Linked DNA regions of Homo sapiens: region 1 is reported to be linked to region 2. Evidence: microRNA targets listed by miRTarBase, many of them from high-throughput screens and not tested one by one. Region 2 holds a microRNA gene; the other region holds the end of a gene's coding sequence.
What was found. Region 2 holds the annotated microRNA hsa-miR-29c-3p (UAGCACCAUUUGAAAUCGGUUA, at 2,467-2,488, shown strand). A microRNA usually pairs through its seed, bases 2 to 8, with sites in the 3' UTR of a target mRNA and lowers its output. Matches are read on the target gene's strand: a 7mer-m8 pairs with bases 2 to 8, a 7mer-A1 pairs with bases 2 to 7 and ends in A, and an 8mer does both.

Region 1 (4,062 bases), not on the chromosome of region 2:
TGTCTCTACAAAAAAAAATTTTTAAGTTAGCCAGGCATAGTAGTATGCACTTGTGTCCCAGCTATTCAGGAGGCTGAGGTGGGAGGATGGCTTGAGTCCAGGAGTTAGAGGCTGCAGGGAGCTGTGATCACCACTGCACTCCAGCCTGAGTGACAGTCGAGGCTCTGTTTCCAAAAAAAAAAAAAAAAAAAAGTGATTGACTGTACTTAAGTTAATTATATTTACATTAGATTTCCTGTTTACTTAGTACTGAATAAAATGTAATCTACAGTCTGTGTTACACAGATGGATGTATAGAACCAATTTATAAGGACTTTTTTTTAAAATTATACTGAATTTTTATATATATATCACAATAAGAATTGAGGTTAGGATTATGGTTTTTTTACTAACATGAATATAATATCATCACCTAGTTGCCTTCGTTTAGTTCAGTACAATTACTGCACATCATTTATATATCTTTGTTGAATATGTTTCCACTAACTTCTTTTTTTTTATAATTTTTTGTCTTTAGGAATAAGTTTGTGGAGTTTGACATGAAGCCAGTCTGTAAGAAGTGCTATGAGAAATTTCCATTGGAGCTGAAGAAAAGACTTAAGAAACTAGCTGAGACCTTAGGAAGGAAATAAGTTCCTTTATTTTTTCTTTTCTATGCAAGATAAGAGATTACCAACATTACTTGTCTTGATCTACCCATATTTAAAGCTATATCTCAAAGCAGTTGAGAGAAGAGGACCTATATGAATGGTTTTATGTCATTTTTTTAATTAAAAAAGAAAAATTCATATAATCGTGTTTAAAACACAAATGAAGTCAGTATTTGCCTTTGTTAACCCTTATCCATTTGTTGACATGTAGACTGTTTACAAAAAAAAAACACATGGTTAAATGTTAAATTTTAATTAAGGCCCCCAAAAATTAAATATAACTTTTTAAAATGAAAGGAGTCACCTTTTACATGACTCAGGTGAAAAAACAGTATAAACATTAATTTACTTTGTGTTCAAAAGAAAATTCCAACTGCTGTTGGGGAAGGACACAGAAAAGAAAAATAACCACCCAAGAAAAACAAAAACAAGAAAAACAAATCTTATACAATCTTAGTATATTTATCAAACTAGTAGCTAGAAAGTGAATATGCACATTACTAAGACAAAAAACAAGTGTAATTCAGAACTACTTGATTTTTTTTAGTTAAATGCAATAATTATTATGCTTAGTTTTATAACCTGCTCTCCTTGTGAATTCTTCCTTCAAATGATTACTTAACGCAGTAGTAATAGCTAGCTGTAGGATGTCCTTTAAATTTTTGTGCAAAAAAAAATTTATACCAGGTATTTGGAAATATACTTTACAATATTGGAAAATGAAGTATTTTTAATGTATTACAGCAATTATGTTTCTAAGCTTAATGTTAAGCATGTAGTCTTAGAATAGGACATGAAATTAAATTGTATGTAGCTTGGAATATATTGCTTCAGAAAACTGAATGTGTATGTCGGTCATATTGCCTTTATAACCATGCTAATATCTATGCTTTATACATACTCAAACTTGCCTTGCCTTAAAAACATACATACTACATACTTAAATCAGGAATTCTAGCCATCTCACAGAATACCAACTAAAACTAAGTGCATTGAGATCTGAGATTGGTAAACCCAGATTCATTTACCACAGCTGTAATTAAGTTTTTAGAAACTATTCTCTTTTTGGGGAAATCCATTGAAGTTAATTTCTGTTATCTTATTAGAAGAAAATGATGTTGATATGTGTTTCAGATTTTCCATTTGAAATCTTATAATTAATTTGATTTATTTACTGTAAGTAGGAGGTATAAATGACACTCTTAAATTGGAAGGAGGGGTGTTTTAGTGTCTGTTTTAGGTCAAAATTAGTGATTCTATTTTTATCAAAAGTTTTATCCTGAAGTTTCAGGACCACTCTTCCTTAATAAACTTGTTAATGGAAAGCGAGCTTTATGAACATTTAAAAATGTTGCTGCTGCTTTGTTGCTTAAAAAGAAAGTTGCCAAGAGAGACTTCTTAGGGAAAATATTTGGGTTTTTTTTCCAAAAATTGCTGAAATATTGTTTTGCCATTTTTAAAAAGTCTCAGGTTATTACCACTCTGCCATTAAATATTTGTATGCCTGCATTTTTAAAAATTCTGTGCATGTACTTTATGGAGTACATTCTATTTTTGTTTTCAGATACCCTACAACCAATTTTTTTTAGTAATCTTTTAGAATTGAAATTATCATAAATGATCGAGAATAATCATCACATAGTTTAAGATTGTATATGTTGAGTAGTTTAAAACAATCTTTGCATTTTACAGTAAGAATCAAAGTCCCTTCAGTGTGCCTTTGTCAGCTAATATGTGACCAGCAATGACAACCTTGGGAGTATTTATTAAATATTATGCTATGAATATAGGCAACACAGAACAGGGTTTGCAGTATAGCGTCTTGATGCTAAATTCTCATATACCTCTACACGAGAAATATGGAGGAGAAAAACAAGCATTTACATATATTCTTCGTCACTTTGAAGATGCATGGCCTGAACTCGACTGCTTGTGTTTGTTTACATATCAGGCATACCCAGGCATCTCCTGCAGCCAGAGGTTCCATTGCTGTCTTTGCTCAGTCCTCTTTTAAAATATGAATTAGTGGACAGGCACGGTGCCTCACACCTGTAATCCCAGCACTTTGGGAGGTCGAGGCAGGTGGATCACGAGGTCAGGAGATCAAGACCATCCTGGCTACCACTGAAACCCCATCTCTACTACAAAAAAATTAGCCGGGCGTGGTGGCGGGCACCTGCAGTCCCAGCTACTCGGGAGGCTGAGGCAGGAGAATGGTGGGAACCCGGGAGGCAGAGCTTGCAGTGAGCCAAGATCACGCCACTGCACTCCAGCCTGGGCAACAGAGCAAGACTCTGTCTCAAAAAAAATAAATAAATAAATTATGAATGAGTATTTTCTAGAAATTCAACTTGCTAAGCCTGTAATACTTAAGGGTAGTTTATCTAGATACAGTACTTTCTTCCCTGATAAGTAGTATCATTGGAGCCCTTAGGTATAGGAGAAGAGGAAGAAGTTTAAAAAGTGTAAGTGGGCCGGGCGTGGTGGCTCATGCCTGTAATCCCAGCACTTTGGGAGGCCGAGGGGGGCGGATCACGAGGTCAGGAGATCCAGACTATCCTGGCTAACAAGGTGAAACCCCGTCTCTACTAAAAATACAAAAAAAAACATTAGCCAGGCGTGGTGGCGGGCGCTTGTAGTCCCAGCTACTCGGGAGGCTGAGGTAGGAGAATGGCTTGAACCCAGGAGGCGGAGCTTGCAGTGAGCCGAGATTGCACCACTGCACTCCAGCCTGGGCGACAGAGCAAGACTCCGTCTCAAAAAAAAAAAAAAAGTGTAAGTGGATTAAAAGAGAAACTTGGTCTAGTTCATAATATTTTTAATAGGGCTTTCCCTGGCTGCTGGAAAACTTAGGCCAGTAAGCATCTCTTTGTTTAAAGTCCTACAAGACAATTTGAAATAATTCATTGTTCATGCCAAAATTCTAAGTACTGTTTTTCTTAGCAAGTGTAACATAATCAGGAACAATGGGTACAAGTAAAACATTCTTTGGATGATATTCAAAGCCTTATTAGCACTGCACCTGAATAATAGGTCATTTTGCCTCACTCATTTGCCAAAGTAGCCATTTCTAAGTTAAGGAAGTTTTTAGATAGGCTCATAGCCTTGTATTTCGTTTTAGATTGTAAGCTCAATGGCAGGGATACTATATTGGTAATTATGTTTTCATATAGCAACCACCACAGTATATTCTTGGTGCTTAATAAATGTTTATAATTGTTAACAATAACCTGTTGTATATTGTTTATTTTGAATGGTATATATGTGAAATACATATGAAAATTGAAGTATTCATGAATATATAATAGAAACAAGTAAATGAATAAAATGACCTGGTTACTATAGATAAGCCAAATTTTGAACCATCTAGAACAATGGTGTAGTCTTCCCTCTACTCAATGTAAATGCTGGG
Region 2 (4,070 bases):
CTGGAGTGGTGGTGGGTGGGGGCGGGGCTGAGGGGTGGTAGCCAAGGGAGGGTGAAGGAGAGTATTCCAGAAGAGACAACAGCTTAGGCAGGCAGGACCTCGCCATGGAGGAAGGTGCTTTCTGATCACTGCGGGACACCTGTGTGATAGCTCATAGGGAGGGGGTACTGGTAACTAAAAGTTGATAAGGAAGAGTGGCTAAAATGAAAAGCAGAAAAGTGAGAATCTCATCAAATCCCCTCATTTGACAGGATTTGGACTCCCAGTAGTAACTGTCCTTAAACACTCACTCCTGACCTTACAACCCTGGCTGTTACCTGGTTAACAAGCCCCAGGTGTTGGCTACAGGTGTCATCACTGAGAGCCCTTGTGTGCAGATCTGCCCCAGCTCTCCCACCTGTGACTGAGGCTAGCAAGTCCCCCGTGGGCTGTAGAGCCTAGCGCTGGTGTCAGAATCGCTTGTTGCAGGTTCATCTTCAGTGTCTTTCCCACAGCCACATGCTGGGGAAAGACGGCAAAGGCGCTAGAGGAGCAGGAGAACAAAGCAAGCTGCCCCAGACCACCCGGCTTTCGCAGAACCCAGATGATGCTCCTGTCTCCCCCTAAGTATAACGTGTTATGTAGTCAGTATGATCCCATTCAGTGCAGAAGTATCGCCTAGGAATTTCCTGCCCCACCCACCCTGTTTTGTTCTTAATGAAGTTCAAGAACAAAATGAGATGATAGTCAAGTTATGGAGCAGGCTGCAGTGGATACAAGGGCAGAAACACAGTCTTTGGAGTTAGACCTGGGATCTGCATTGATTGGTTGTGTGACTGCAGACAAGTTATTTAGCCTCATTAAGGATGAATTTCTTCGCAAAAATTGGAATAATACCTGCCCCATACGACTGTTGTGAGAATTAAACACCGCAACTTTTGATGTTCAAATTCTATTTCTTCTCCTTCTAGCAACACATACTGTTAGTGCCAGGAACCATAAAAATTATAAGGCTGTATCTAGAGGCCTGAAAGGAAGCTAAAATATACAGTGTCTACTCTGTCTCTTTTCTCTTGGTTATGGTATCAGAGGAAATACACATATTTTCTTAGCTTCAAACCACCAAAAAAGATGATGCAGTAAGGAGATGGGAAATCTAATTTGGAATACAGTGTGCAAATCTTATTTTCAAGCAGACTTTGAAAATAAAACTCAATTCTTACGTTAGAGGATTATCTGCTTAATACAATTATAGGGTACCAGTTTTTGAAGTCACATCGGGGTTAAATAAGATTGCAGGTTCATGGGGTCATATTTGAATGTTCTGATACTTACATATGGGGTGGGAAGGAGGAATGCATGCTTTTCTCAAGTTAAGACACATAAAAGAGTTGTCCTGGCCCAGGTGAGACTCGCCTTTGTGTAGCAGCTGGAGCTTCATTCCACAGGCAGATAGGGTGCTTGTGTCCTGATGAAGTAAGAGAATATATCTGGAAACACTTTGTGTACTGTGAAATACTATACAAATGCAGGGCAGTACAAATGTAAATATTAATGTATTTTAGTAATAATTTTAGCTTTTATTTCATCATATATAATAATTTGTAGTGACTGGTGTGAAGTTAAATAGAATTAACCTAGAATTAATGAGTTTTGTATTGCTCTCATCTATTTGAAGCATCAGCTGTGCCTTTCATGTTGCCTTGTGCAGCCCTGTGTAACCTCCTCTGTGCCTTTCCCATGGAGCACTGTGTCATATCACAAGTAGAACTACAAGAAGATATTTCTCCTCAGGGCAGAGGCTGGGTCTTCCGATTGAATCTCCCTTCTTTCTTCATTGAGATCCTCTTCTTCTGGAAGCTGGTTTCACATGGTGGCTTAGATTTTTCCATCTTTGTATCTAGCACCATTTGAAATCAGTGTTTTAGGAGTAAGAATTGCAGCACAGCCAAGGGTGGACTGCAGAGGAACTGCTGCTCATGGAACTGGCTCCTCTCCTCTTGCCACTTGAGTCTGTTCGAGAAGTCCAGGGAAGAACTTGAAGAGCAAAATACACTCTTGAGTTTGTTGGGTTTTGGGAGAGGTGACAGTAGAGAAGGGGGTTGTGTTTAAAATAAACACAGTGGCTTGAGCAGGGGCAGAGGTTGTGATGCTATTTCTGTTGACTCCTAGCAGCCATCACCAGCATGAATGTGTTCGTAGGGCCTTTGAGTGTGGCGATTGTCATATTCTGTTGGATAACAATGTATTGGGTGTCGATTGTCATGGGGCAGGGGAGAGGGCAGTACACCTGGAGGACCATTTTGTCCACATCGACACCATCAGTCTGCTCTTAGAGGATGCCCTGGAGTATTCGGCGTTGATTGCGGGGCACCCGAAATCAGACTTGCCACCTGGACTGTCGAGGTGCAGACCCTGGGAGCACCACTGGCCCATCTCTTACACAGGCTGACCGATTTCTCCTGGTGTTCAGAGTCTGTTTTTGTCTAGCACCATTTGAAATCGGTTATGATGTAGGGGGAAAAGCAGCAGCCTCGAAGCCTCATGCCAACTCTGGGCAGCAGCAGCCTGTGGTTTCCTGGAAGATGGATGGGCAGAGAATAGGGAAGGAAGATCATGCTTTTCCCTACTAACTTCTGTAACTGCATGTATGATACATTATTGCAGAGGTAAGAGATAGTTTAATGGATTTTTAAAAACAAATTACTATAATTTATCTGATGTTCTCTAGTTGCATTTTGCTGAAATGTAGTGCTGTTCTAAATTCTGTAAATTGATTGCTGTTGAATTATCTTTCTGTTGAGAAGAGTCTATTCATGCATCCTGACCTTAATAAATACTATGTTCAGTTTATCATGTCTGTGTTTTTCATCTATTATTTCCCATTCATAATTCTGTGATGATAAGAAGTGGGTCCTGAAAAATTAATTGGCTGTGCAGATCTTGCCTACTTCATAAAGAATTTGAAGTAGGTTACAGCCAGCCAGACATTAAAAATGAAGCCCATTAAGAGAAGAATGAAATTCTATGAGCCAAGAAATAAAATGAGAGAAAAGATTAGGGAAGAGAAGAAATGTTGAAGATCAAGGCTGAGGGATGCTCCCTACTGAATGGGAAAACTCCTTAGTTCCACATGGGCTGTAGACACAGCCCTTCTGCCAGCAACTGTTCCTGCAAGGAACTGGTGCTCAACTAAACATACTGTCACATGGTTCCTTGAAGGGGCACAGCACTGATTTCACTTGCATTATAAAAGATTGAGTGGTGCTTTTGACTATTAGTTTATGTCAACACTTCAAAACAAGATGAGCCAGTTTTTTTTTGTTTTTTTTTTTTGTTTGTTTGTTTGTTTTAGACGGAGTCTCACCCTGTCACCCAGGCTGGAGTGCAATGGCACTGTCCCCGCTCACTGCAACCTCCGCCTCCCGGGTTCAAGCAATTCTGCCTCAGCCTTCCGAGTAGCTGGGATTACAGGCGTGGCACCTCCACGCCCAGCTAATTTCTGTATTTTGTAGTAGAGACGGGGTTTCATCATGTTGGCCAGGCTTGTCTCGAACTGCTGACCCCGTGATCCACCCACCTCAGCCTCCCAAAGTGCTGGGATTACAGGCGTGAACCACCTCGCCTGGCCCAGTGAGCCAGTTTTGTAAAGCTATTCAGAGATTAGCCAGATTTGATTTGATAGGGGATCAAGCTTGTAGGATCTTCAGGAAGGCGGGCTGTGGCCCCTTGATCAGGCTTTTTGCACAGGAGGTGCATGACTATGAACTACCCTCAGTAGAACTCTTTTAAGCCAGTGGCTTGCAATAAATGATGGCAAATCAGCCACCTAGGAAGCCATTTCTAAGCCCAACCCCCTGCCACAGTCTTCCTCTAGATGGCTGCCCTGCCCAGTGGGCTGAGAGTGGGGGGCGGAAGTAGCATTTGCTGGGAAGACTTGCCAGTACATATGTTGCACCCCCTCACTGCAGCTGCAGTGCTATTTCAGGCTGTTGATGGAAGAACCCATGTTCTAATCCCCAGGATGTGGTGGGAAGACCCTAAGTGGTGGTGTTAGTTAAGACCCTAAGTTATATTGTTTTGTTCACTTC

Region 1: the mRNA of LIMS1 is a reported target of hsa-miR-29c-3p. Seed matches in the 3' UTR shown: 7mer-m8 at 3,844-3,850.

What each region holds. Positions count from the first base shown.
Region 1 is chr2:108,683,368-108,687,429 of GRCh38, forward strand. It overlaps LIMS1 (LIM zinc finger domain containing 1), which reads left to right. Exons shown (of 10, transcript NM_001193483.3): 10 at 518-3,879. The coding sequence ends at 632. Among named protein-coding and RNA genes, the nearest start is that of LIMS1-AS1, 6.8 kb to the left of the region's middle.
Region 2 is chr1:207,800,283-207,804,352 of GRCh38, reverse strand. MIR29C (microRNA 29c) reads left to right here and starts at 2,414; the gene lies at 2,414-2,501. It overlaps MIR29B2CHG (MIR29B2 and MIR29C host gene), which reads left to right. Exons shown (of 6, transcript NR_135299.1): 6 at 1,691-2,835. It overlaps MIR29B2 (microRNA 29b-2), which reads left to right and starts at 1,830; the gene lies at 1,830-1,910.